Regions from separate parts of the Homo sapiens genome. Here region 1 is linked to region 2. The links come from fine-mapping of genetic effects on gene expression. A gene starts in region 2. The other region holds a variant in brackets. All regions are shown on one strand. Distances are between the middles of the regions. Region 1 has its middle 18 kb from the start of FOXD2. Region 2 holds the start of FOXD2-AS1 (FOXD2 adjacent opposite strand RNA 1).

Evidence for each region.
Region 1: its variant is fine-mapped to the expression of FOXD2-AS1 in blood mononuclear cells (TOPMed, PIP above 0.99).

Annotation. Positions count from the first base shown.
Region 1 is chr1:47,450,268-47,461,696 of GRCh38, forward strand. No RefSeq gene overlaps it. Among named protein-coding and RNA genes, the nearest start is that of FOXD2, 18 kb to the left of the region's middle. The variant T/A (reference allele first, on the strand shown) is at 6,325.
Region 2 is chr1:47,429,077-47,440,505 of GRCh38, forward strand. It overlaps FOXD2-AS1 (FOXD2 adjacent opposite strand RNA 1), which reads right to left and starts at 5,565. Exons shown (of 1, transcript NR_026878.1): 1 at 3,057-5,565. FOXD2 (forkhead box D2) reads left to right here and starts at 8,968. Exons shown (of 1, transcript NM_004474.4): 1 at 8,968-11,429. The coding sequence starts at 9,060. The coding sequence ends at 10,547. It overlaps LINC01389 (long intergenic non-protein coding RNA 1389), which reads right to left and starts at 8,241. Exons shown (of 5, transcript NR_126355.1): 1 at 8,214-8,241. RefSeq lists silencers at 2,539-2,648, 7,448-7,607, 8,088-8,987, 9,018-9,197 and enhancers at 5,050-5,565, 10,386-11,155.

The sequences.
Region 1 (11,429 bases), 21 kb after region 2:
GGACGACCCAGCGCTAAAAAGGGATGACCCTATACCACCGGGGGTGACCCTGCTTTGAGTGGGTCTGACCCTGTGCTAACAGAGATGACCTTAAACTGACAGAGGCAGATCCTGTGCTAACCGGGATGTGCTTGCGCTACCAAGATTGGCTTTGTGCGCTCCCTCTTAAGGCTTATCCTGCATAGATTAGGTGCTAAGGCTTGCAGTCCTTGTTATGGTCCCTGTAGCTCTTGCGCCGCAGCAGGGATGCCCTATTCCACCCCCAAACTGGTAGCTGCTTTATTCCTCTCCCCGTAGCCCTTTGGGGGCAGTTCTGGGACACCTGGTTGGAGAGAAGCCTGCCGTGGCTGGGCACACCCTGCACCTCTGGGAGGAGGAGTTCACAACCTCAAGGAGGAGGTGGCTGAGTTGTGGGGAGGGAACTGATTTTATGGAGGCTGGGGCATCTTGGGGGCCAGGACTGTGAGTACTTTTCTGTTGTCTGTGCTCCTGACCCCAGAGCCCGGCCTTGCCACCCCCACACCCTCTCCACATATGTAGGCGGCTTTATTTTTGCACCACTCCATCTTCCTGGGCCTACTCTCCCTCTCTGTAAAATGAAATGAACTTATCACCAGACTGCCCTCATCTGCTGGAATGTCCTTGTCAGTCTCAATTCATTTCACCATTCTTTTATTACTCACTTTGTGCCTGGTCCTCTCCTCTGCACTGGGGATACAGTGGTGAACAAAACCGATGTGGTTCCTGTCCTCAGGATGGTGACAATCTAGTGGAGGACAGAAAGAAACACAAATGCATGTGGAATTAAAGCTGTAATATGGGCGCAGAGGGAAGAATGCCGACGGCCTTGAGAGAGAATAGCTGAAGGATGTCATGGGGTGGGGATTCCTCCCCAGCTCTGGAGCCTGCTGTGGGGAGAACTCATCACCCCATACTTGATCCTGTTTGACTCCGATTTCAGTCAACAGACCTCTGGCCGCTGGACTTGCTGGTCATGGCAGCTATAGGGAGCCAGGAGCCCCTCCCAGTGTGTCATCATCCATCACAGATTTCCATTTGAGCAGCCCTCCTCCAATGTCACCAGAAGGGATTCACCCTTCATTCCAGCACCCAGAGCAACTTCCTCTCCCCAGGTCCTTGGATTTGGAAGAGGCAGTCTGCCCCTCAAGAACACGATGTGGAAGTCAGGCTGGCTTTGGGATATGAGATGGCTTCAGTTCTGAGATCTCTCTCTCTCTCCCCCTCTCTTTCTTTTTCACTGAAGGCCACAGTCACACTGAGATCTCTATCCAGCATGCTGTCTGGTGCAATAAATAGTCATTGATTAAAAGAATAATTCTAGGAGACTACTCTTTAATGAGCCCAACAGCCAGAGTGATTCTGTGGTTCATGGGTCTGATTATCTGATTGTTCCTTCTTCCACTTTCTACCTGGTTCACTCCCTACTCAGGGTCACCTCCCCCACCAAGCCTTCACTAGCATCTCCCCACTCCCACAGAATTTTTTTTTTTTCTTTTTTTGGAGACCGGGTCTTGCTGTGTCACCCAGGCTAGAGTGCAGTGGCATGATTATGGCTCACTACAGCCTTGATTTCTCGGGCTCAAGCGGTCCTCCCATCTCAGCCTCCTGAGTAGCCAGGACTACAGGCTAGCCACCACGCATGGCTAATTATTTATTTGTAGAAATGGGGGTCTCCTTATGTTGCCCAAGATGGTTTCAAACACCTGGGCTCAAGCAATCCTCACACATCAGCCTCCCAATCCTAAGACTTTTCATACTTTTAAAGAACTTACTGTGATGTATTATTTTCTGCTTGCTGTTCCCCCTCCCTCATCTTTTCCAGTACACAGCACAAGGCCTGGAACATGAAAGAATGAATCAACTGCATGTGTAGAAGGGCCCCAAAAATGTGTTGCATTGCCCAAAGACAAGTGGAGTTAATGTGATTCAGAAATATGTCCCTTCATAGAGCAATAATGATCTCTGGTGCCTGGTGTGGTGGGGAAGGGGGAGTGGGGGAACAGTGTCCAGGACAGCAGTGGCTGGGGGCCCCTGAGCCCCAGTGTTGCAAGATAACCCAAAGGGAGAGAGGCAGCCTGTACTCAAGCTCAGGGCACCTCCGTTCTCAAGACAAAAGGAGCTTGGACTGGAGGAGTCATACCTTGAGGGAGGGGGCTAGAGAGCTGTCTCCCCACCATCCCTGCACTCCCATGGTGCAGCAGCTGTCCAGGGAGCAGGCCCCAGCTCTCTAGAGCTGCACAGAGAAGATGAGTGCTCCCAGCCCAAGGACAGAGGCTCCAAGTGCTTGTTGGGGATAGGGCAGAGGCGGGAGAAGAAGGGAGGGGTTGAGCAGAGGGAGTGGCTTTCAAGGGTGTGGGACAAAGAGGCTGACTCTGCCTGGGACCCCTGAGGAGGTATCATTCTCCAGGGTTGGAGAGGACCCATGTTTCTTTTAACCCCTTCATGACTTCTGGCCTTGTCTGGCTACCAAAACTACAAAGACTTGGAGGATGATATACATTGGTTGAAAATCCAGCTTGGGTGGAGGTAGTTTTAGAGAAGGGAGATTGAGGCCCTAATGTGGGAAAACACTAGTACTTCCCCAGCCCCACTTGTATCATACATTCTCCTTAAACACACATAATCTGTGGGGACCTGGGCCAGGCCGTTGGGGGATAGAGCTGAATCAAACCATTTTCTGACTACCCTCTTGCCTCCCATGCAACATTTACTGATCCTACTATGGCTGGGTATCCCTGGAAGAGGCCCACTGTGGGTGTGGGGTGTAGGTTTGGGGACAGGAAGGGAATTTATGCAACTTTCTTCCCTGGGAAAGCTCATAGTCTGAAGTTAATAGCTCTTGGTGCTTCAATTCAGGGGCGATACATTTTGTGAGTGGAGAACAGGCACAGGAGACTTCCTGGAGGAAGTGGCATTTGAATTGGGCCTTGAAAGTTGGGGAGAATTTGGACCATAGAAGGTTGGGTGTGAGGGGAAGACATCTAGGGCATTTCATCCTTTATGAGCGAGGGCATTTGGGAGAGCTGAGTGAGTTCAAAGTTAATTTAAGCTGAGAGGTCTTCCCTGTACTCTTCCTGTAGTCACATAATAGAATCCCTCTGCATTATAAATGGTCCTCAAGTTCTCAGTTGTTGAACAAATAAAGGTTATTTTTCACTCATCTCGTAGTCTAAATATTGGATCACTGGTGGTGGTAGTGAGATGGGGGGAAGCTTTGTTCTACATAGTCACTCAGAGACCAAATGGCCTTCCATCTAGGGGTTCCATCATTCTGTAGGGGAAGCGCTCTTATTATTATTATTATTTTTTGTACCATGGACCCCCTTAGGTAGATTAATGATCAGCTTATGGATACCTAAAAATAAATATTTTTTAATGCATGAAATCAAATTTACAGGACTATGAAATAAGCCAATTATATTGAGATTAAATTATCAAAATCGTTTAAAACTTTTGTGATGGCCAGGCGTGATGGCTCATGCCTATAATCCGAGTACTTTGGGAGGCTGAGGCGGGCAGATCGCCTGAGGTCAGGAGTTCGAGGCCAGCCTGGCCAATATGATGAAACCCTGTCCCTACTAAAAATACAAAAATTAGCCAGGTATGGTGGCATGCACCTGTAATTCCAGCTATTCGGGAGGCTGAGACAGGAGAATTGCTTGAACCTGGGAGGTGGAGGTTTCAGTGAGCTGAGATTGCACCATTGCACTCCAGCCTGGACAACAAGAGTGAAACTCTGTCTCAAAAAAAAAAAAAATTGGTGCAGGTGGCAAGTGTCACTTCTGACCACATTCCTTGGCCAGAACCCAGTCATTTGGCTCCACCTAACTGTAAGGTAGAGTAAGAATTGAAGTCTTGCTGTATGTGCAGGAGGAAAGGGAAATGGGGTTTGATGACTGCACAACGTTGACTGCCATGTAGAGTCTCCTTGAGTCTTCTGTTCCATTCAGTGTTTTTTTTTATTGTTGTTGTTTTTGTTTTGTTTTTTTCTGAGATGGAGTCTTGCTCTGTCACCCAAGTGGGAGTGCAGTGGCGCGATCTCAGCTCACTGGAACCTTCATCTTCCGAGTTCAAGCAATCCTCATGCCTCAGCCTCCTGAGTAGCTGAGGTCACAGGTGCATGTCACCACACCTGGCAAATTTTTGTATTTTTAGTAGAGACAGGGTTTTGCCATGTTGGCCAGGCTGGTCTTGAACTCCTGACCTTAGGTAATCTACCTGCCTTGGCCTCCCAAAGTGCTGAGATTACCGGTGTGAGCCACTGCGCCTGGCCCCATTCAGTGTTTTAAAGATCCAGATAGGCCGGGCATGGTGGCTCACACCTGTAATCCCAGCACTTTGGGAGGCCAAGGTGGGTGGATCACAGTGTCAGGAGTTTGAGGCCAGCCTGGCCAATATAGTGAAACCCCGTCTCTACTAAAAATACAAAAATTAGCCGGGTGTGGTGGCACACTCCTGTAGTCCCAGCTACTTAGGAGGCTGAGGCCGGAGAATCGCTTGAACCCAGGAGGCGGAGGTTGCAGTGAGCCAAGACCACGCCACTACACTCCAGCCTGGGTGACAGAGTGAGACTCCGTCTCAAGAAAAAAAAAAAAAAAGATTAAAAAAAAGATCCAGGTGAGAGACTGATTAGCTTTGTTGACAAACACAGAGGACATCATGATGTCTTGAAAAGGAGAGAGGAAGACAGAGATATTTCAAGTCTAGTAAGTCCAGTTCAAGTGGCACACAGATGTCTGGGCTCTGATTTGTGCTGAGTGGCTCCTAGAGCCAAGAGCCAAGTACACCTCTCCCCTCTCTGGCTCCTACACACCCCATGTACTACCCTATGAAGAGAGGTTACTCAGAACAGCCTTCCCAGCAGGCTGTGGGATCCCCAGATGGAGACCTGCTCCATAGACAACGCTTTTCCATCTCCACCTCATTCTCGTCACCAGATTCCATTAGAAATGATCCTCTTTGAGAATGGTAGCACATGGGTGCATGAAAGAGGTTCACATGAGTGTGTGTGGAAGGTAGAGGAATCAAGTCACATTTGCCATAGCTTTAATCTGGGTAAAGTCACCTGAATTCCCTGATCATAACCAGGACTTAAACAGTACCTGACACATAATAGGTGCTCATTAAATAAATGTTGCATTGAACATCTGAATGAATGATGATCTTTCCCTGGATATCTCTTTCCCTCTTGTTGCCTCTGTCCTCATTCCTCTGTCTATCCATCTGTCCTTCAGAGAGTCTGTCAGTAATCTTTTTTTTTTTTTTGAGACGGAGTCTGGCTCTGTCCCCCAGGCTGGAGTGCAGTGGCGCAATCTCGGCTCACTGTAAGCTCCGCCTCCTGGGTTCATGCCATTCTTCTGCCTCAGGCTCCCAAGTAGCTGGGACTACAGGCACCCACCACCATGTCTAGCTAATTTTTTGTATTTTTTTTAGTAGAGACTGGGTTTCACCATGTTAGCCAGGATGGTCTCGATCTCCTGACCTCATCATCCACCTGCCTTGGCCTCCCAAAGTGCTGGGATTATAGGTGTGATCCATCGCGCCTGGCCAGTCTGTCAATAATCTTTACCTCTCAGCCAACTCAAATCCTTTGTGGAGTACAACATTACGGAAAACAGCATGGAGGTTCCTCAAAAAATTAAAAATCCAGCTATCATATGATACAGCAATCCTACTACTGGGTATACATCCAAAGGAAATGAAATCAATATGCTGAAGAGATATCTGCATCCCCATGTTTATTGCAGCATTATTCACAATAGTCAAGATATGGAATCAATCTAAGTGTCCAACAATGAATGAATGGATAAAGAAAATATGGTATTGGCTGGGCACGGTGGCTCATGCCTGCAATCCCAGCACTTTCGGAGGCCGAGGCAGGCAGATCACCTGAGGTCAGGGATTCGAGATCAGCCTGGCCAACATGGTGAAACCCTTCTCTACTAAAAATACAAAAGTAGCCAGGCATGGTGGCGTGCACCTGTAGTCCAAACTACTTGGGAGACTGAGGCACGAGAATCATTTGAACCTGGGAGGTGGAGGTTGCAGTGAGCCAAGATCACACCACTGCACTCCAGCCTAGGCAACAGAGTAAGACTGTCTCAAAACACACACACACACACACACACACACACGTACACAGAAAATATGGTATAAATACAGAATGGAATACTATTCAGTCATGAAAAAGAGTGAAATCCTGTCATTTGCGACAACATGGATGAATCTGGAGAATACTATGTTAAGGGAAATAAGCTGGACACAGAAAGACAAATACTCAAATACTGCCTGATCACATTTATA[T/A]CTGGAATGAACTTATTTGTGGAATTAGGCAGGACACATAAGCATACATGAGTATTAATAATAATAGAATCTCCATGTTGATGGAGAGCTACTCACTGTCATTTCCACCCTGTGACTTGTGACTTCTCCCCTCCTGGGTGGCAATCTTTTTTTTCTTGAGACAGGGTCTGTCTTACTCTGTCACCCAGGCTAGAGTGTAGTGGTGCATTCATAGCTCACTGCAGCCTCAACCTCCTCAGGTTCAGGTGATCCTACCACCTCAGCCTCCCGGGTAGCTGAGATCACAGGTATGTACTACCACACCCAGCTAATTTTTGTATTTTTTTGTAGAGATGGGGATTCACCATGTTGCCCAGGCTGGTCTTGAACTCCTGGGCTCATGCAATTGACCCACGTTGGCCCCCAAAGTGCTGGGATTACAGGCATGAGCCACTGCACACGGCCCCTCCTGGCAATCTTGATTAACAAGGAGATTCACAGAAATTGCTAGAAAGCATTTCTACCCTTATTGCCTTATTGAGTCCTCACAGTGCCTTGAGATGGGCACTTGTAGCCACTATTTTCCAGATGAGACTTGGTGAAGTTCTGTGGCTGCTGTGGGTTTGCACCATAAATAGCATCAGAACTTGAACTTCTGAATCCATGGGTCCAGGTGCTCCCCAATCCCCACTCAGAGGTTTGCTTTTTATTCTCTACCCTTGGCTTCCTGCTTGTCCTGGGGAGCCCAGTCAGATCCTTTTGCAGGTCTTCTGGGAGGTATGCTCACTCCTCTCCTGCTCTGCTGCTGTAGGCCCCTGGGATGGTTCCTGTCCCGAACTGCTGAGAGGGTCACAGGGCAGGACCTGCCTTTTTTTTTTTTTGTGACGGAGTCTCGCTGTGTCCCCCAGGTTGGAGTGCAGTGGCGCCATCTCGGCTCACTGCAAGCTCCGCCTCCCAGGTTCACGCCATTCTCCTGCCTCAGCCTCCCGAGTAGCTGGGACTACAGGCGTCTGCCAACATGCCCGGCTAATTTTTTGTATTTTTAGTAGAAATGGGGTTTCACCGTGTTAGCCAAGATGGTCTCGATCTCCTGACCTCGTGATCCGCCCGTCTCGGCCTCCCAAAGTGCTAGGATTACAGGCGTGAGCCACCGCGCCCGGCTGGACCTGCCTTTTATCAGTGGCCTGCTAAAGCTGCAGCAGAGATCCCTCTGCCCTGAGTCCTTTCATCGATGGCTCTTGCAGTGAGAAACAGTTACTGTCGTTTATCTCTGAGCGTAGCTCTGAATCTGCCTTGGGCTTGAGTCTTCCCATCCATCCTATTCAGACATTCTTTTCCCCTCCTTTGCTATTCCTGCTCTTTCTTTCCCCATTTATCTTTCTAGCCTATCTCTGTGCCTAGTCTGAATCTCCTTGTCTTGCACAGTCCCAAACCTCCATAGGAAAGCGGATGTGCAGGGCTTCTTCAGCTGGGGCTCACTCTGTTGCCTGCACCCCATGGAGCCTCCTAGGCACCATTTCCAAAGCACCTCACAGAGCAGGGGATCCAGGAGGGTCCCAGAGGGGCTGGAAACCTGCATCCTCCTCAGACTGTCAGCTGGTCAACTCTGGGCCATTTTTTTTTTTTTTTTTAAGACTGACATGGAGTCTTGCTCTGTTGCCTGGGCTGGAGTGCAGTGGTGCGATCTCGGCTCACTGCAACCTCTGCCTCCTGGGTTCAAGCGATTCTCCTGCCTCAGCCTCCCGAGTAGCTGGGATTACAGGCATCTGCCACCACGCCCAGCTAATATTTGTATTTTTAGTAAAGATGGGGTTTCACCATTTTGGCCAGGCCTGACTTGAACTCCTGATCTCAGGTGATCCGCCCACCTCGGCCTCCCAAAGTGCTGGGGATTACAGCCTCTGGGCCCAGCCTCTGGGCCATCTTCACAGTGACTGCACATGTTCCTGAACTTGTTCTCTCCTGGGTGGATGGACCCCAGTTTCTTCCTCTGCCCACATGGCCCTTACCCCCTCTCATTCTCCTTCCTTATCCTCTGCTTTCTCTCTTCTTTCTGACCCCCCATTGCTATATATGGGGTGGGGGTGTGTGGCTGGAATCTGGTTTAGGGATGTGTTTGCTCTTGGATAGTTATGCAGAGGGCAGTTTTACTCCGCAGAGACTCCCTGGGGAGAGGACCATCAACAAATTGCTGGATCTGCTTTGTGCAAACAGACACACAGAGGCATGTATTGGTGTTTGAGCACATGTACACCACAATCCCCGACCCCCATCCCACAACACGTACAGGCCCTGGCAAATAGATAAGGAGTCAGGGGTTTAGGTAGGTATACCAGGATGGAAGCCACATACAAATGCAATGCATCCAAGTGAAAGCTACATTTAGCACAAGGAAATGAAAAAATATATGTAGTGTTTATCTGGTTACCCTAATGCAGAGTTGAGCGTGTGGGTAATTTTCTGATAGATAATTATGCGGGAAGAGTATACTTCCTGGGACTCTGTTTGGGATGGGCATTACTAGCAATCACTCACTCGTGAATACTGCTCTACACAGAGTATCTACGGCCATTATCTCTGTAGTGTCTCACGTGCTGACGACAAGAGGGGTGTGAACTAGGTGAGTCTGGGAGTCTGTGATACATAGCATGTGTGTTGGTGGCTGTGTCCTCAATAGCAAATTGGGATTGTTGCGTGATGGTGATGGTGTGTGTGAAGATGTCTGTGTGTGATGGTGCATTTGGCATGTGTGCACATGTGTGCATGCCTGGAGCCAGCAGAAGTGTGCAAGCCTTCAGGAGCAGTAGAGAGGCAGCTAGCCTGGCTCTTGGGAGAGACACTCATGTATGAAGAGCTCAGCGCTCGAAAGCGGCTGTTTAACAACTTGAGCATCAAATTATAGCCCACGTGGGCAGAGGTGTCAGCGGTTGCTGGTTGCTGTAAATACTTCAGTGCAATTGACAACAGCTTGTGGAGGGCTAAGTGAGATGGGGAGGGTATAGAGGGAGGGGTAGCGCCTCCTGCAGGGACCCTCTGCCCTATAGTCCTGTCTCTGCTGGATCTAGTGCTGCTGGGGAGGGGGTATGCGATGGGGAGCAGGGAGTCTGTAACAGGGTGGGCTTCAGAGCCAGACGGGTTCTAAATAACCCATCATTTACAGGGGGTAACCTTCGGCAAATGACTTTTCTACTCTGTGCCTCAGTTTCTCGATGTGAAACAACAACAACATTAATCATAATACCCTGTGAGACTTTTGTGAGGAATAACCAGAACTTCTTTCACCTGAAAGCACTTGTTGTGGTTATGCAGACATTAGCTTTTATTGCCTTGTGCAGGATAATGCATGGGAATTAACACAGCACCTCTCACATAGGAAGCCCTCAATAAATGTTAGGTAACGTTGTTAGCCTATTGCTATTGCTATTGTCCTCATAAGCCTGGACCCATAGCTGGAGATACCACAGCCCTTCCAAATATGCATGGAAAAAAGGCTTCCCAGAGGGCAGCCAGTGGGTTTTTGTGGATTTTCAGAGAAAACGTTTTTAGTCTCCAATCTTTCAGAGAATCCTGCTGGACAGGATCTGAGACTGAGAGAGTGTGCCCGGGGAGCTCTTGCTGTAGATCCGCCTGCCTTCATTAGTACTTTGGCTGCGTTCTGAAAAAGTCATGAGAAATGGATGTTTGCAAACTCAATCCCATTTAAAATGCACTGGCAGGGCTGAGGGCTTAAAGGCACCCTGTGGTGAATTCTTTTGTAAAGCAAAGAATCTCCTGAATGTATCCATTTTTTAAAGTACTGATATTTATAAAGTAGTAATAGTCAGGATTTCTTGAGTGCTTATTGTGTGCCGAATATTCAACATCTATTACTTAATTATAGCCTCATAACAAGCCTATGGGGGGCAATATTTTAACTTTCCAGAAGAAATAGATGCACAGAGAGTAGCACACACCTCCACAGCATCACACAGCTAGAGTGTGATGGAGCTGGGATGGGAACCTGTCCAGCTCATATGAAAGCTCATCTCTTTCTGCTGTGCTCCCTCACTTTGTCATGCCCTCTTCCCCTCTCACCTCACCCCCACCTTCTCTTTTCTGCAACCACACAAGAATCTTTATTTTGCATATACCACAAAGAGGGTAGTTTCAAGTCTGGTATAATCAAGAGTCACCTAAATCACAAACAAAAGCTTCAACAGTTTTTAAAAAGTAGGAGCAGTATCTCTGAATTTTTGAGGCCACTTTTTAGAAATTTATTTCTTGACCAGGTGCCCTGGCTCAAGCCTGTACTCCTAGAACTTTGGGAGGCTGAGACAGGAGGATCATTTGAGCCCAGGAGTGGGAGACCAGCCTGGGCAACATAGTGAGACCTCCTCTCTACAAAAATAAAATAAGTTAACTGGGCATGGTGGTGCACACCTATAGTCTCAGCTACTTGGAAGGCTGAAGTGGGAGGATTGCTTGAGCTCAGGAGTTCAAAGATGGAGTGAGCTGTGATCATACTACGCAGTCCAGCCTGGGCGACAGAATGAACGTTTGTTTCCTAGGAACATTTTCAAACCTATGTAGAAGTAGAAAGAGCAGTACAATGAGCCCCGTGTATACCCACCACTTAGATGCAACAGTTATCAAGATTTTGCTTCATCTGTCTTCTACCTTTTTAGAGATCCCGTTTTAATTTCGTAAGATAGGGATAGCTGCATCATTTGCACTGGTATTATGATCATCCAGTGAACTGTATCCATGGAGGTGTTTGTTTTTCTGCAGAAGAACTTGTTATATTATATACTGTAAGCAGATGTCTTTTCTTTTTCTACCTTTCTCCGGTAAGTTATTGCAAGACCCTTCTAGGTCTGGCTAGGTTATGCTAACTCCCTCATGCACCACATTCAGTGTTCCTAATCAGACCCACATGAGGAAGGAGTTTCCTATCAAGCAGAGGTGACCAAGTTCTCCAGTGGCCCCAATCCCTATGGTTTGAGTCATTTAATTGTCACTAGAGTAGTTACTTTCTTTTGTAAAGATGCAGTGAATCTTTCTGCTCCTCCTCAAGTTAATAATGTTGATAATAGTTACTACTAATAATTGTGATCCTCTGCAGCTTTCCATTCTCCACAAGGATCTCT
Region 2 (11,429 bases):
ATAGCCCCGTCAGGACCACATGGAACACAGGAGGGAAGGTTTCCTTCAACAGAGGGCCGAGACATGCAAAAACTGTAAGCATGTTCAGCTCATCATGCCAGGGAAACTGCATTTTGTCTTACAAGCAATGTGGAGCCCCTGGAAGACTTTGGCAGGGCTCAGTCTGGAAGCTGGTTTGATTTGTCACAACCATTTTAAAAGGAGGAAACTGAGGCAGAGAGAACAACAGACAAATCCAATGACTGCTACAGCCAGAAACCACGGATAAACTCTGTCTGAGAGGGAGACATGTTCTCCTCCCCTCAAAGATGGGGACTGATGGGAGAGAAGCAACCTCTGTTCTTAGTGAACACGTAGTTCTATTGATGATCTGAGCTACAACCTCTGTTCCCAGTGAATACAGAATTCCATTGATGATTTACTGATGAACTCCCTAGAGTTCTATAGGGAGTCCCAGAGAGAGAGATATGCCATACCTTCCTTTCTTCCTTCCTCTTTTCTTTCATTAATATATCCACATATCTAACATTAATTGAGCACCTACTGTGTGTCAGGCTTTGTGCCTGGCAGGAGGTAGAGTGATTAATAATGATGATGCAAAACATTTATTGAGGTTTTTTTTTGGTTTGTTTTTGTTTTGTTTTTTTGAGACAGAGTCTCACTCTGTTGCCCAGGCTGGAGTGCAGTAGCATGATCTCGGCTCACTTTAACCTCCACCTCCCGGGTTCAAGCAATTCTCCTGCCTCAGCCTCCCAAGTAGCTGGGATTACAGGTGCCCACCACTGCACCTGGCTAATTTTTGTATTTTGTTTTGTTTTTGAGACGGAGTCTCACTCTGTTGCCAGACTGGAGTGCGGTGGCACGATCTTGGATCACTCCAACCTCCGACTCCCTGGTTCAAGCTATTCTCCTGCCTCAGCCACCCGAGTAGCTGGGATTACAGGCATGCACCACCACGCCCAGCTAATTTTTGTATTTTTAGTAGAGACTGGGTTTCACCATGTTGGCCAGGATAGTCTCGATCTGCTGAACTCGTGATCTGCCCGCCTCAGCCTCCCAAAGTACTGGGATAACAGGCATGAGTCACCGTGCCCGGCCTAATTTTAGTATTTTTAATAGAGATGGGGTTTCATCATGTTAGCCAGGCTGGTTTCCAACTCCTGATCTCAGGTGATCTGCCTGCCTCAGCTTCCCAAAGTGCTGGGATTACAGGCGTGAGCCACCACGCCCGGCCTTTATTGAGATCTTTCAAAGTTTCAGGTAGTAGGCTAAGTGCTTTATATGTGCATCATCTCTTTTAATCCTTACAGCAATCCAATGAGGTAGGTACAATTATTATCCCCATTTTGCAGAAGAGGAAAGATAAAGATGAACACAAAATGAGCCCTGTTCTCAAGGAGCTCACAGTCTAAAGCAGGGATCCCTAACCCCCTGGCCACTAACTGGTTCCTAACCGGTGACCTGTTAAGAACCTGGCCACACAGCAGGAGGTCAGCTGCGGGTGAGCAAGTATTACCACCCGAGCTCCGCCTCCTGTCAGATCAGTGGCGACATTAGATTCTCATAGGAGCACAAACCCTATTGTGAACTGCGCATGTGAGGGATCTAGGTTGCGTGCTCCTTATTTTTTATTTATTTATTTATTTTTGAGACTGGAGTCTCACTCTGTTGCCCAGGCTGGAGTGCAGTGGTGCAATCTCGGCTCACTGCAACCTCTGCCTCCTGGGTTCAAGGAATTCTCCTGCCTCAGCCTCCCAGGTAGCTGGGACTAAAGGCACCCACTACAACGCCCAGCTAATTTTTGTATTTTTACTAGAGGCGGGATTTCACCATGTTGGCCAGGTTGGTCTCAAACTCCTGACCTCAAATGATTCACCCACCTCAGCCTCCCAGAGTGCTGGGATTACAAGGTGTGAGCCACCATGCCCCGCCTGTTGCGTGGTCCTTATGATAATGTAACTAATGCCTGATGATATGAGGTAGAACAGTTTCATCCCAAAACCATTTGCCCACCACCACCTTGGTCTGTGGAAAAAACTGTCTTCCATGAAACCAGACCCTGGTGCCAAAAAGGTTGAGGACTCCTGGTCTATAATAAAATCTACAGACTGAAAAACAAGTAACAAAAACAGATGGAGCTAAGAGCTTCAGGAACACAGAGGTGGGAGTCAGGTGAGCGCAGGAGTGTTGTCAGGGAAAGCATCTCACAAACTTGATGTGTGAAATTAACTAGGAAGGATTAGAAGTGAGCCAGGCAAGAGTGAGCCACCTGCAAAGGTGAAGAGGGAAGAAAGAGGAAATCAGGTGTGAGTAGAGAACAGGAGTTGGAGGTAGGGGCTGGGCAAGCAGGTAGGGGCCAGGCTGCCAGGTATCCTGTGCAGACAAGGACTCTATACACAGAAAGTGATGCAGCTCTGAGAAGGCCTCAGGCTACTGAGCAGGTATCACTAGAGCCTCATGCAAATCACACTTCCACCTTTTCACTAACTGAATTGCAAGCACCAGAAGGCCTCCTGTTGATCTGGGGTCTCTGCAGTGCCCTCTGAGTGTATGAGCAGGAGAGGTTTCTCAGCTCCTCCTTCCCTTGGGTGGTGGTGGTGGATGGGGGAGGGTGGTATTTTCCAGAGTTGAGTCTGTTCCCAGACCTTAGCCCTGCCCACTTGCTGATGTAAGAAATGCAGCCAACCCCTGAAATGTGAAGTCCTTCCAAGTAGCTTGATCTGGGCTGAGGATGGGAGAAAGAAGGGTCTGGCCTCCCAGCACAGCATTGCCCTCCCTGCCTCATCCTGGAGCAATGACCACTCTCTCAGTTTCCTCCTGCATTCCCCGCTCCAGTGTGAAACCTCAATTCAGGTCTCACCCATCAAAGTGAGTTCTCCCCAAATTACCTGCTCCCCATCCAGGTGAGATGAAGAGCACCCTGGCCTGGGAAATGGTGTAGGGTTCTAGTTCCACCTCTGCTACCAGTTTGCTGTGTGATTTTGGGCAAGTCATCCCTCTCTCTGGGTCTCAATTTCCCCATCGGTGAAATTAACTTTGAAAAATCAACAGTCCAATTTTGGAATGAATAACTTCAGTCTTTATTCACTGGGGGGTGGGGTGGGTTGGGGCAGGGAACGGCATGCCCAGCATGCAACACAAGGCGTGGGTGGAGTGGATTCACAGTCTTTTTGGAGAAGAGCAGGCAGGAAGCAGGTTGGCTGTGCAGTGTGGCCTGAGAATGAGCTCAGAACAGGAAGAGGGGAAGAGGAACTGGGCTGGCCAGAAGGCTTCTTTCTGGAAGAGGCAGGACTGGAGCAGGGATTTTGAAGCGTGGGTACAGGTTGGAAAAAAAAGCAAACATAAGCGAAGAGTGGAGTCCGGAGGTTAAAAGTCTCTGGATAACTTTTCCAAGCGGGTGGAATGGGAGTAGGGTGAGGAAAGGGTGCTTTGTCTCAGAACCAGTCCTTTAGTTCCTGACTCTGTGTGGATGAGAGGCTCCTCCAGAGGTCGCTGTTCCCCAGGAATCCATTACTAGCGTCCGCACCGCGAGGCCAGAGCTCCCACTGTTCCCCTGGCTTTGCTTCTATGAGGCTTACGCGGCTCTGCATCTGCCCAGAGGACTCAGGGACGCGGCAATATTTCCGCCCCCACGAGGGTACTTACGGCCTCGCCAGTTACCCTGTCTGGGACTCAGAAGGGTTACACGTGAAGGTGAGCGCATGTGCATGTCTATGGTACACACAGGTCGCTATGGCTCTGCACCCTCCCTCCTGCGCTGCCCCAATTCAGGGCCCGGAAGGGCGTCCTGTTCCCGAGGTGCCACTGTGCCAGCAGGCGGCGTGTAATTGGTAGGAGGGAGGCTGCCGCTGGAGTATTCTTGGCTGTCCCTCAGTGCGATCCCTGCATGAACTCCTTTTCCATGCTACAGTCACAGACCCTCAACCCAGGCGCACCCTCACCCATCCTCATTCCCCACTAGGGTCTCGCTGTTGACCCCGAGCAGGTTTGTCGTCCCCGACCAGGTCGCAAGGCTTCAGACTCTGGGGGGAAGTCGCGGGCCTGGATGATAAGCCTTCCAGGCAGTCCTGGGTCCACTCTGTGGACACCAAGCATGAGGTCTGGAGGGGAGGACACAGGACACAGGATGCAAGACAGGCGCCCGTCACTCAGGGTCGCAATCCGCCATACAGAGCCACTGTTGTCCAGAGGACAGACACATGAGGACAGAGAAAGAGAGGCTCGGCCCAGCTGGCCGAGAAACCCACAAGAGCGCACTTAGACATGAAGTTCTCCTTCCCACATACCTGGAAGCGTCCCCCACTGCCCCTGGCCGCCTCTGCTCTCAAGAGCGTGGAGCCTTCCCTACCACTCCGGGAACTCTGTGATCTTCAGGACCGGCGGGTTTCAAGTGGCGCTGTTTTCGGTCTCTCCTGAGGTCGCAACCCTCTTCCCACGAACAACAGCCCACAGGCTCCGCAGCTCGCCTTGGTCTCAACAACCGCGCAGTACTTGGGTGCTTAAGCGAGTCCCCTACCACATAGTCCAGGGTTGGGGGCGGGGGAGATGGGGCTGGGAGGGGACAGTGGCCAGGAGTAGCGGAAAGAGAAGATGTAAATTCACTCTCGAACTTTGCCCGGCAGACGCGTGGTGGTTATCTCCGCGCCAGCGCCTGAAGTGGGCAGGTGGGCTTCAGAGTTGAAGGTGCACACACTGGAGCCCCAGTCATTTCTGTGCATGGGGAACATGTCTGAGGTCTGCCTCCGCGGGTCACAGGATCTGGAGTCTCCCGCCTCCCACCTGGGCTAAGGGAGCTGATCGCTTCTGAGCAGCCGAAGATCCGGGTGGAGAAAGGGGCCGGGAGCTGTACCGGCTGAGGCTAGACAGCTATCTCGCTTTGGAGCTGCAGCTAGGTCCAGAGTGGGAAGGAGGCTCGCGCCGGCTTTGCCGCTTTCCCTGAGGGTGTCCAGTTTTGTGAATAAAATTAGAGAAATCTGCGGGCGTAGTTCCCCAAGCCCAGCTCAGGCTTCCGTTTGCAGCCCGGCGCTGGCCGAGCTCGAACCGCTGAAAAGGGCCGCGTGCAATCGTTCCGCTGTGCCTCAGGACAAACTCCGCTTCAAGCCAGTGCCGCTCTCCGGCAGTTTCCTGATTGACTTAATTAGATCCGCATAATCGCTGGAGGGCTTTTCTTTCCCAGAGCCGAGAACAGCTCATTTATGGGGACCAAAAGGAAGAGAGGGAGAGACGACCCGGACGCCACTGATAGCAACGTACTCTTCGCAAAAAACACTCAGTAACTAGTGGAAAAGCCCAACAGGCATCCCCCTCCGCCCGCCAACGCTTCCTCCCAATTGTTCTGGGCTGCACGAGGGAGATGGCCGGGCCGTGGAACAGATGCAGAAGGAGGCCCGGCACGACCAGAGACGCTGTAACCAAGACCCGCAGAGCCTGTGGCTTCCCGCTCTTTGGCGGCTGCAGCAGGCATGGTGCTGGAGCCCAAGGCTTCTGGGAAAGAGTCCAGGTTTTCGCGGAGGGAGCGACGGACTCACGCGGGATCGCAGGCACTGCTGCAAGACGCCGAACAGGCTGAGCCGGTAGGCGAAAGAAGTAAGGGTCACAGAAGAAGCAAAGAAAACGAAATAAATTCCGAATCCCGCGGTGGCCCTTCTCCCAGTCCCCAGTGCACTTACTCCTGACACTGTTGAAAACAAACTGGCCCAGAACCTTGGAAGGGAGGAGAGGCTACTAGAAATCCCTCTATACAGAGAGGAGCTCGGTTAGAGAAACAGCTATTTGGATAAACAGAGGGGTTCTGGGCTAGGAACCCGGACACGTAGGTCCAACCCAGCTTAGCGCCCCTCAAAAGCCTGACAAGTAACATGATCTCCTGGACCTCAGTTTCCGCTCCTGTAAAAAGTATGTATGTGAAGGGTCTGGATTCTCCCTCCCCAACCCTGCAGAGCAGAAGCTGGGGATTCTGTACTCCCCTTCCCCAGTGTAGGTCTCAGTAGCAGTGAACGTGCAGCAAGGCCAGGCAGAGGCAAGGGCTGGCTGCTGTAGCTGCTTGGTAGAACTTCTCTGAAGCAGGAAATTTGGGCAGCAAGTGCCCTGGCTAGTCTCACCCTGACCAAAGCCTGGGGAGCCAGGGGAGTGCTGGCAAGGAAGGAAGCTACTGGTTCCCATTTGCTGTTTTAGAAACGAGGACATTCAGGCCGGGCAGGGTGGCTCACGCCTGTAGTCCCAGCACTTTGGGAGGCCGAGGCGGGTGGATCACCTGAGGTAGGGAGTTTGAGACCAGCCTGACCAACATGGAGAAACCTCCTCTCTACTAAAAACACAAAATTAGCCGGGCATGTTGGTGCCTGCCTGTAATCCCAGCTATTTGGGAGGCTGAGGCAGGAGAATCATTTGAACCTGGGAGGCTGAGGTTGTGGTGAGCTGCTGAGATCAGGCCATTTTACTCCAGCAGGGGGGCAACAAGAGCGAAACTCAGTCAAAAAAAAAAAAAAAAAAAAAAAAGAAAAGAAAAAAAAGAAATGAGGACATTCAGAAGGTGAAATGGAGTAGGATGACGCCAACACTGTTTTTCTCTCCACTTGTTTAGATACTAGCAGAGTTGAGCTGGGTTGGAGTTGGTGTGTGGTCCATGGTGTGGGGTATCTGTGAGTGGGGTTCTGGGAGTGTGAGACAGATATCCATGTAGTCAAGAGCAAGCTTGAGGTATGTGTAGGGTTGCCAGATAAAATAAATCTGCTAAATCTAGCAACCCTAGGTATGTGAGTTTCCTTGGACTCATGCAAGAAGCTTCTCTCCAAGACCTTTTTCCCCGGACAGTCTGTCACCCAGGAAATTCCAATTCCAGGGCTACTAGTCCCTGTCCAATTTGCTGTCCATGGTTTGAGGACGAGATTTCTCTTTTTTCCAATGACAGTTTATGCTGGAACAGCACATTAAATGGATCCCCTTGGTCAGAGGTCCCAGAGGGGGCCCAGGCGACTTCCTCTCAAAGGACATGAGTAGTCAGACCTGCCTTCCATTTTTTTCTGCCCTTACCTTGGGGGGATGAAGAACTCTATTTTGAGGATTCTGTGAAAAGGGTTGCAACCCAACTCTGTTCTATTTCTTTGCAGGAGCCTGGGTGAGTTCTTTCTCCCTATCCTGGGCCTCTGTAGCTCCATCTGTGGAATGGGAGAGTTGGATTAACACCAGGCTATCCCGTAGATTGGAGGCTGCTGTTAGATGAAACTGCAAAGTGTTCTCAGTACCCTTTCCTAAATGGCCTAGAATATGGCTACACTTATACATCAGTTCTGAGGTAGGTGTTACTAGCCTCATTTTTACAAAGGCAGAAACAAAGCGCAAAGAACCTTGCCCAAGGTGACAGATAGGGTAAGTAGTGAAGGCAGGATTGGAACCCCAGGAGCCTGACTTAAGGTCGCTGCTCTTAACTACTATGCAGACCAGGAAACTGAGGCTCCGAAGCGGGGAAGTCACCTAATGAGGGTCACACAGCCTTGCTACAGCGGAGGCAGCTGGGATTCCGGCCTCGCACGCCCGAGCTTTAGCCACTGTGCGGCGCTGTCGGGGCAGCAGCCCAGGCATCCGCTCAGTTCCTGCTCACGTCCAGCGCCCATCTCCCCTTCCGTGCCCCAGAGGCTGAAATGGGCCCAATCTGTGTTGAAGCTGCTTGTTTCTGGGTCCTGGAGGGAGGCCGGGGGAGAAAGAGGTCTAATAGGATGGGCAGGAACCCGGCTAGCGAGAAACAAGGCACAGGGCCAACCTTAGTTGCACAAGACTTTTGAGAGATGAAGGCAACACTTGGTGGAGGTCAGGGTTCACTGAGGGGGTGTCGGGCAGGGGGCGGAGGAGGTCCTGCCGCCTGTCGGTGGGGCCCAGAACCCTGGGAGCCAGGAAGGTGGGGGGTGTCCAGTCCTCAGGGCAACTGGGGCCAGGGAGAGGGGAGGGAGAAATTAAGCGGATTCCCAGACCCATGAACAGACATCCAGACAAATGCCGTTTCCACAGAGACTCACGGAGAGTGAGATAGTCACAGAGACTGAGACAAACGGATGCCGAGATCCAGAGGGTCGGAGAACAGGCAAACTCGGAGCAGTAGACCGGCCCGCGCCCCGGGAACGCGGCCACAGCGGCCGGCGCTCTGCCCGGCCTCTCCGCGCGGAGAGGGGTGGCGGGCCCGACAGCGGAGGGAGGAGAGGGCGCCGCCGCAATCTCACCTCTCCCAGGCCCAAGGCTGCGGGCGCCAAGTTCGCTCCTGGTGATCACTCGAATGCGTCTCCCCTCGGGCTGGAAGCCGTGCGGGCTCGGGTGGGCGCCGGCGGGCCGCGCTGGGGCGGCGTGGGTCCCGGCGTCTCAGCCTCGCGCTCCCACTGCGCTTCGGCCCGGTGGCCCGGGCGCCGCCTTGGGGAGAGGACGGGTGGGGACCGCCGCCACTTCCCTGGCTGCGGCTGGCGCCCGAGTGAGCCTTAACATCCAGGGGCTGAGCGTTCTGAAGGCGGCGGCTTCAGGGAGCACAGGGTGCAGGAGCGGCGGCGAAGACAAGGGCCCGCCTCCGGCCACTCGAGCCCAGCTCCCGCCGCGGCGGCGGTTTGTTCCCGCCGGGTCCCTCAGCGGAGGCGCTACGCCCGCCCCTGTCGCCTCGCCCCACCCCGCCCAGGGAGCTCCGCCCTAGCCCGCAGCTCTTCCGCCTTAGGCAGCCGCTAGGCGGGAGGGACAATCCCCCACCACCAACCACTGCCACCCCGAGGGGACTAGGGGCTGAGGCCCGCCCAGGTAAGGGAAAGCCTCAGCTCCTTCCGTTGCGCCCCAGCGGCGGGTCCCAGCTCGGATTCCCGGGGTAGTGGCGGGGGCCGCCGGCGGGTCGTGCCCTGGAAGGTGAGCGCGGCCGAGCTGGGCCGCCAGGGGGCGCTGCGGAGCCGGGGGACACCCCTCCCTGCCTGCCTCAGTCCCCCGCCCCCTCCCCGCCCGCGCGCAAAACGCACTCGCCCCAGAGGCAGCGCGGCCGAGCCCGAGCCGCTGCCGGAGCGGAGCCGGAGAGTGGCGGCGGCGGCGGCAGCGGCACCATGACCCTGGGCAGCTGCTGCTGCGAGATCATGTCCTCCGAGAGCTCCCCGGCCGCGCTGTCCGAGGCCGACGCAGACATAGACGTGGTGGGCGGCGGCAGCGGCGGGGGGGAGCTCCCAGCTCGCTCCGGGCCCCGCGCCCCCCGGGACGTGCTCCCCCACGGCCACGAGCCTCCCGCGGAGGAAGCCGAGGCAGACTTAGCCGAGGACGAGGAGGAGTCTGGTGGCTGCTCGGACGGCGAGCCCCGCGCTCTGGCGTCCCGGGGGGCGGCGGCCGCAGCGGGGAGCCCGGGGCCAGGCGCCGCGGCGGCCCGCGGCGCAGCGGGGCCCGGGCCGGGACCGCCGTCGGGGGGCGCGGCGACGCGGAGCCCGCTGGTGAAGCCGCCCTACTCGTACATCGCGCTCATCACCATGGCCATCCTGCAGAGCCCCAAGAAGCGGCTGACGTTGAGCGAGATCTGCGAGTTCATCAGCGGCCGCTTCCCCTACTACCGGGAGAAGTTCCCCGCCTGGCAGAACAGCATCCGCCACAACCTCTCTCTCAACGACTGCTTCGTCAAGATCCCCCGCGAGCCGGGCAACCCGGGCAAGGGCAACTACTGGACGCTGGACCCGGAGTCGGCCGACATGTTCGACAACGGCAGCTTCCTGCGGCGTCGCAAGCGCTTCAAGCGGCAGCCCCTGCCGCCGCCGCACCCACACCCGCACCCTCACCCGGAGCTGCTGCTGCGTGGCGGGGCCGCGGCGGCGGGGGATCCCGGCGCTTTCCTGCCCGGCTTCGCTGCCTACGGCGCCTACGGCTACGGCTACGGGCTGGCTCTCCCGGCCTACGGCGCACCCCCGCCGGGGCCGGCCCCGCATCCGCACCCGCACCCGCACGCCTTCGCTTTCGCCGCGGCAGCCGCCGCCGCTCCTTGCCAGCTGTCGGTACCCCCAGGCCGCGCCGCCGCGCCTCCACCCGGACCTCCGACGGCCTCGGTGTTCGCAGGCGCGGGATCGGCCCCAGCTCCTGCGCCTGCCTCAGGCTCGGGCCCGGGCCCGGGCCCCGCAGGCCTGCCCGCCTTCCTGGGCGCGGAGCTGGGCTGCGCCAAAGCCTTCTACGCGGCGTCCCTGAGTCCTCCCGCAGCCGGCACCGCGGCGGGTCTGCCCACCGCACTTCTGCGCCAGGGCCTCAAGACGGACGCGGGCGGTGGTGCAGGCGGCGGGGGCGCCGGGGCAGGGCAGAGGCCTTCCTTCTCTATAGACCACATCATGGGCCACGGTGGCGGCGGGGCAGCACCCCCGGGCGCCGGCGAGGGCTCTCCGGGACCGCCATTCGCGGCAGCCGCGGGTCCTGGGGGCCAAGCCCAGGTCTTGGCCATGCTGACTGCTCCGGCCCTGGCTCCCGTTGCTGGCCACATTCGCCTCTCGCATCCCGGGGACGCGCTGCTGTCCTCAGGGTCCCGGTTTGCCAGCAAAGTCGCCGGCCTTAGTGGCTGCCACTTCTGACCGCAGCAGGCCCAGGGCCGGTTAGGTCCGCACTCCTCAGCCTCTCCCGGGAGTTCCTGCGGTCCCAGCGGAACTCAGGGAGTCTATTTATGAAGTCTCCAGACCTTGGGCCGGCACGCGTGACACGGCACTTCAGGCTCCACGCACAGAATCTCGCAGATAGTTGGGACTAAGCGGGCTCTATCGCTCAGGGCGACAGGCCCGGGGCTACGCGAAGAAGTCGCAGGCCAAGATTCTTTACAGTTTGAGAAATAAAAGCAGGGGGGTGGGGGCTTCGTTTTTTTCCCTGCCTCTGCGCCTCTCGGGGAACACATTCCGGGAGAGATGCCTGGCCAGGCTCCACGGATCCCGCCAGAAACACCAACAGAGGGTCTCCCTTTCTGCCTTTCCCCTCTCACTTCTTCCCCAACGTTGAGACCCTGCTTGTCCAATATTATAATTTAAAGACATCTATTATCTGCTTTGTGCTTAAAAGAAAAATTCAACCTTTTTTTTTTTTTTTTTTTTTTTGCTGTTCTCCAAGGAAGTTCGTTTCCTCTGAAGCCTAAACCAGTGTCTACGCAGGCGGAGCTGAACGGAGAGGTGAAGCAGGGGGTCTTTATATTCCCTGCAGAAACCCTGGATCCCACTCCACTGAGGAAAATCCTTTCTCTTTTGTGTTTGGGTGCTTTTAAAGGAATTTCTTTCCTTTCCCTTGGCTGGCTGGGTCCAGCCATCTCCGGCCAGCAACCCTGTCAGTGTTCCACCCTGTCCCAGGCCCTGTGATATTTATTGTGGCTAAAGGCAATGAGATTGGGTGGAAGAGAAGGGTCTGGGCCAGGGACTGGAGAGGTGGGGGTGGAGTGGGCAAGGGCACACCCTGTGGCAGGGGGTCCTATAATT